Linked DNA regions of Homo sapiens: region 2 is reported to be linked to region 1. The links are microRNA targets in miRTarBase. Many come from high-throughput screens and were not tested one by one. Region 1 holds a microRNA gene; the other region holds the end of a gene's coding sequence.

Region 1 (3,135 bases):
GCCAAGGTGGGGGATACCCTCAGACATGGAGCAGGGCAGAAGCAACTGGATGGGGTACATCCCTCTGCTTTGGGAGAGAAGGGCCAGGGCGGGACCCAGAGAGCTCTGCAGAGGCACCACAGACCCTCAGCAGGGGGTCTGCCAAACAGGACAGCTGGACTTGGCTGCTTCTGCCCAGGCCTGGATCCAGCCCTTGCACATCTCAGGGCAGGGGATAGGCCTGGGTGGCCAGAGCTGCAGCTGCACCTGCTGGGGAGGCCTAGTCCAGTCCTCCAGGGTCCCCAGACAGACTCGGATTTCCGACTGCAGCCACCATGGAAGGATGTGGTCTGCGGTGACGATGTCTATCCAGAGGCCATGGCAGGTGCAAGGGTGGGGGTAGGGGCAGCAGCTGGGGATGCTACATTTAGGGACAGCCCCTTTTTATCCCCAAGACCTGGGACTGTCCCTGAAAGGAACCACAGCTTCTGGGTCCTGAGCAGTGGGTGAGTGTCATACCCACAGAGGGGCTGGAAGGGAGCAGCTTCAGCCTAGACTCCCAGGGCAGACCCTGCCCCAGCCCCGAATATCCAAGGAGCCCAAGATCAGAGGCAGGAATAGGCCAAGCTCCCCAGTGGAGAAGCTGTGCTGGACCAGGGGTTTCCCAGGGCCCTCCCTTGTGCCCTGAATGATGTCTGTTAGGGCACCTACACCCTGTTACTGCTCAGTGCCTTGCCTATTTTGAAGGACAGGGATGTGTGGTGATTATTTGTATAATCCAGCCCCCAGCACCTGGTCCTCAAAAGTTACCCAAGCAATGTGTATAAAGATCCAGCCTGGAGATCTTTGAAAACCGATTCGATGAGTCGAACCATTAAGTCATGATCACCATCCTCAACTTCATCTCTTTCTTCCTCCTCCTCCTCATTATCATCACCTTCAAGAACTGTTAAGAGTCTGAGACTTCATCCTATTTGCAGACTAAAAAGTAAGCCTGCCACAGTGCCATGGATGCTGGCAGAAGATACAAGACTCCTGGGTCAGAGACAACGAATAATCTGTTTTTCACAGCAATAGCAGTTGCCAAGGTATCAGCATTGTCTTGCACCAGTTCCACAAGGTGATGCAAAGAGGGCCAGGTGACATCTGCATGCCAGAGCTCAGGGATCCCAAATATTTCATACTTGACAGTAAGCATATATCTGTGTTTTGCTCCAAAGAGAGGCATTCTCTGTACCTTCCGAGGTTGTTCACTCCACAAACACTCTTGAAAAGATAATCCACAATCAGTGCCTTTGCCCGAGAGACATGCAGAAATGCAGAGATCCATAGTAGACCACTGTCTCCCAACAACCATCAACTTTATCAATGAAATGAAGTCTCAGGCTATTTGTCTGTTACCATAGCCCACAAAAATGTCTGGCTTGATTGTCACCAAATGTATCAAGGAAGTTAAGGAGTATCTGACACAAAATGTGAACCAAGCAATTCTCAAAGGAGCCTCCCAGGAAATTCACTTTAGGAAGTCCTAGGAGGCTCCTCTGAGAGTTGCTAAAACAAAACATTGAGAGTCCTAGAGGGCTGCAGATCTGAACTTGAGCAGATATTTTTAAAGATTTTGTGGCAGAAAAAGAAACTGGAAAGCAAGAGGGCAGACCCTCATTGCAGTTCTGTAATGTAAGGGGGCAGAGCAGGGGCCTTTCTCACCAGAGTATGGGGTCCTGAAGATCTCCTCAAACATTTTTATACTAGGCTCTCAGGGCAACAGAAAAGATGGGAGCGATGAATGGGGCGTAAAGGAGTGCAAATGACACAAGGGGTCACATGAAGCAAAAGAGGTTTATTCAACCAGATTTAGTCCATGTTTAATTGAGCCACTCCTTTGTGCCAAGCTCTGGGTTTTCCCATGCACCAAGCAGTGTGTTACCACCTAGACCCAGAGAGCCATGTCATCATCAGCAAAGCACGCCCTAGTGTCATGCAAGGACCAGGCCTCAGATTCCGACTCCAGACCTACTGCCTCTTGGCCCTGTGACATTAAAAGAGTAGGGAATCAGCCTGAGCAGCATTTCCTCATCTTCAAATGTGGAGGACAGTAGATGATCTTAGCTCCCAGGATTAGTGCTTGTAAAGCAATAATAATGTAATGCATTATTATTGTATTATGCATCATATTCCCATATTATAGTCAAAAAGGACCCCAACTTAAAGCACCTGCCAGCCCTCTCCTCCTCCACCACTGCCGAATGGAGCCAGGCACGAGTATTCCAGGTGGACAGACGAATAGAAATACAGGGGACGAGCCCCTTCCTAGATCCTAGCGCAGCTTGCTCCCTACTTAAGGAATGATATTGGACCCTGCATTCATCTTCTCTGGATGGTAATTTTCTCACCTGTAAAACAGAGACACTGGCCCCAAGGACACCCCACAAGTAGTTGTGAATCCCAAAGTAAGAGAAGAACAAAAAAAGAACCAGAATTTATTCAACACCCACTGAGTGCTTAGCAAACACATGGTTTCTTTAACTCTCATAAGCTTCATGCTGCAGAGGAACTCTCCCCATTTTACAGATAAGGAAACTGAGGCCCAGAGGTAACCTAGGTCTAGATAGACTCCACATTTATGACTTCACCACTCTTCCTTGCCTGAAGGATATAGAATCACTCCCTGCAGGGCTCTTGCCTGACTCAGGAAAGGGCCACAGGATAGCCAGCCAGGCTTAACCAACCCAGCCAAGAAAGGGCTGGTCCCAACTGGCTGGAGTGCAGTGTACAGGCACCCAGCCTGGAAGACTGATCAGAAAAGAAGCCACAGCTCCAGCCCCAGCCCCAACCCCCTGAGCTCAAGCCCTTGGGGACTCCTGCTGGGCAGCTCTCTAGGCCCTAGGGAGATGCTCCACAGACCCAGGCTGCCCTTTGGGAAGTGGGGAAGACAAGTGGGTCAGGTGTGCACCACCCAGGGGCGGGGCCAGGCAGCCGGCTGTGGTGGGAGGCAGTTGAGCCCTGGATTGTGACCGCTTCAGGGCAGTTGGTAGATGCCCCTCTGGGAGAGATCCCCAGGGGTGACAGCCATGGACCCTGGAAGGGCCTGGGCTAGGGACAGGGACCAGAGCCAGTCCAGGGAGAGGACAGAGCCAATGGACTGGGGTGTACTGT
Region 2 (3,135 bases), not on the chromosome of region 1:
TGGTGAGAAGCCCTATGTATGTAAGGAATGTGGGAAGGCCTTCAGGGGGAACTCAGAACTTCTTAGACATGAGAGAATTCACACTGGAGAGAAACCCTATGAATGCTTTGAGTGTGGAAAGGCTTTCAGGCGGACCTCTCACCTTATTGTCCACCAGAGAATTCATACTGGAGAGAAACCCCATCAATGTAATGAGTGTGCAAGAACCTTTTGGGATAATTCTGAGCTGCTTCTCCACCAGAAAATTCATATTGGAGAGAAACCTTATGAATGTAGCGAGTGTGAGAAAACATTTAGCCAGCATTCCCAACTTATCATACATCAGAGAATTCACACTGGAGAGAAGCCTTATGAGTGCCAAGAATGTCAGAAGACTTTTAGTCGGAGCTCTCACCTCCTCCGACATCAAAGTGTTCACTGTATGGAGTAATCTGCAAAATAGGAAAGCTTTTAGTGGAAAAGCTAAAGTCCAACTTATTCATTTGTTCATAATATGCAAATATGCACCCCAAGTATTCAAATCCAATGAATGGACAGAACCTCCTCTGTCCTCCCACTGATTTTAAATAGTTGGTTGAAGAAGATGAGGCACTTTTTTTTTTTTTTTTTTAAGCATTGGGGTCTTGCTCTGTTGCCCAGGATGGGATGCAGTGGCACAGTCGTAACTCACTGCTTCCTTGAACTCCTGGGCTCAAACAGTCCTCCTGCCTCAGCCTTCCAAATAGCTAGGACTGCAGGCACTAATGAGGCACTTTTATGAATTATTCATTGAGAGGTTTCAGTGTGCTAAGTTAAATCATAAAAGCTCTTTCAGGCCTTAATTTCCCCTCTGTCCTTCCTTCCCCTTCTCCTCCCCCAGTGGATCACATAACAAACATTAAGGGTCTGTACCAGCCATCTTTCCTAAATTACTCTTCAGCAAAATTGTGGGAACAGGATTCCACCACCTCCTAAGAATGAGAGTTGACTCATTGACTGTTACCCCCTGAAATATTAGAAAGTCATAATTTAGAAGACACACCTCATTCTCCTGTCCACTGTTTAGCATTGGAATAATTTAGTAAGCTGTTATTAGCTTCAAAGTCGTCCAGCCCTGCTATGAAGTTACTTTAGAAGATGGCAGCATTAATGAAGAAGCAGGCTCATTTCACATCTGTCAGGCTTCCTTATTCATCTGAAGAGGCTGCCATGATGGAGGAACTGACAGGCAATTTACAACGGGATTATAAGTGAAGGCCTTAGAATCCAGAGGGGCCGATTAGGCAACACCAGGGGATAAACAATTGAGGTCACACTGCTCGGCATGGGCAGAAGCAGCTCTTCAGGAGCTGTCCACACTTCAGGGGTGCTCAGACTGACTGCTCCTAAGAATTCTGCTGCATATATTTTTAGCCCCATCTCCTGCCACTGCTGACAGATATTGTGACAGTAAGTAGCAGACAGGACTGTGGCTTCACCTCCTCCGGGCACCTGGCTACAGTGATGAGTCAGTTCACCTGATGACAAACCAGGGTCTGGCCTTGCCAAAGCACTTAAGTTCTCATGACCTGGACCGCACTGGAGGCCCTGGCTAAGTCAGGATGTCGTAGCCTCTTCTTGGTTTTGCCCCTTGGCCTTGAAATTCTTTTTTCTTGAATAACTTTAAAAAAATAGAGATAAAGTCTTGCTATGTTGCCCAGGCTGGTCTTGAATGCCTGGGCTCCAGCAATCTTTTTGCCTCAACTTCCCAAAGTATTGAGATTACAGGTGTGAGCTACCATGCCCGGCCTTGAAATTCTTTCTTCGCTATGTCTGCATGTTTTTTGTGTTCTGTATTTATTTCTTCTCCAAGGAAACAGCCTACATTTTCCATGTGTCCATGTTTCTGAGGCCGTGGGTGACAGTGGGAATTGCACTAATGGGGGCCCAACAGGCCTGGGGGCTGGTCTTAGCGCTAGACCTTGAACAAGGCACTTCACCTGCTGGTCTCCAATTTTCTCCTCTGTAAAATGAAAGAGTTGAACTAAGTGATCTCAAAAGTTTCAACCAGCCCGATAATTCCTTAATTCTTTAAAAATTTAACTTTATATATCTTTATTATTCTTTAACCTCATCTTTGTTACACTAATATTAGTCACTAATATTTATTGAGTGTTTACTACCTGACAGGCAGAGTGCCAGTTTACATTTTAATTTTCACATCATTTCTATGATGTGGGTACTCATTTTTTTAAAGCTTTATGAAGGTATAATTTACGTACTATAAAATTCACCTGTTTTAAGTGTTCAGTTGAATGATTTTTAATTTACATAGTGGTGCAACCATCAATGATGTGGGTATTCTTACCCCAATTTAAAAGATAAGAAGGGGCAGTGTTAAGTAATTGACCCATGATTCCACAGCTAGTAAGAGCGACAGCCAAGACTCCAAACCTGGTTGATGCTCTTAACCACTGTGCTATGCCGCAGGTAGGCAGATTCATTACTGCCTTATCTGAAACCCTTTGCACAGTTTCTATTACTGATTTCTATGTAGATTTGAATATAACAAATTTAAATCATGTCCTTGGTAACAGAACTGATCACAGCCAAAAAAAATTCACCAAATGGGTTTATTCTGTACTCCAATATAGGTGTCTTCCCAGGTTTATATCCTTGGCTTGAGAAAAGGGTTGTACAAATAGATGATTGCAGAGTTTCCACATCCTTCCAGATACCTCTGCCTCTAGCAGTCACACTCTTAGTAAGGGAAGTTGTTTGATTTACTTCTTCCCTTAGGTTGATTACAAGTGAAGTGCGCCGTCTTATTCCTTTTTCATTGCTGGAGCACAAATTGAATTGTGCCCAGACCGTATCTTTCTCACATGAAACCTGGATCTCACCTATCCCTTCCATGCCTGATTCCCGTGTTTGCATATTTTATTTCCACATTTACCTCTTGTCAGCCCTGACAGAGAATTTGGCACCCCTTCAAGCTTCTCCTAAACAATCTATGCACACAAACACCCCTGAGCAATATGGACTTCACTGAAGATAGTGTGTAAGCAAAGGAGAAGAGTTCACATTGTGCATCCTATTAGACATTTTGTTCTCAGAAGTACCTTACTGGCCAAACCAATGAAGGTTTTCCTCTTGTCCTCCCCTCTCAAGGCTCAG

The links. Region 1 holds the annotated microRNA hsa-miR-5571-5p (CAAUUCUCAAAGGAGCCUCCC, at 1,465-1,485, shown strand). A microRNA usually pairs through its seed, bases 2 to 8, with sites in the 3' UTR of a target mRNA and lowers its output. Matches are read on the target gene's strand: a 7mer-m8 pairs with bases 2 to 8, a 7mer-A1 pairs with bases 2 to 7 and ends in A, and an 8mer does both.
Region 2: miRTarBase lists ZFP3 as a target of hsa-miR-5571-5p. Seed matches in the 3' UTR shown: 7mer-m8 at 2,933-2,939.

Annotation. Positions count from the first base shown.
Region 1 is chr22:22,884,827-22,887,961 of GRCh38, forward strand. It overlaps MIR5571 (microRNA 5571), which reads left to right and starts at 1,441; the gene lies at 1,441-1,553. It overlaps IGLL5 (immunoglobulin lambda like polypeptide 5), which reads left to right and starts at 2,990. Exons shown (of 3, transcript NM_001178126.2): 1 at 2,990-3,135. It also overlaps IGL.
Region 2 is chr17:5,092,584-5,095,718 of GRCh38, forward strand. ZFP3 (ZFP3 zinc finger protein) reads left to right here. Exons shown (of 2, transcript NM_153018.3): 2 at 1-3,135. The coding sequence ends at 430. Among named protein-coding and RNA genes, the nearest start is that of ZFP3, 16 kb to the left of the region's middle.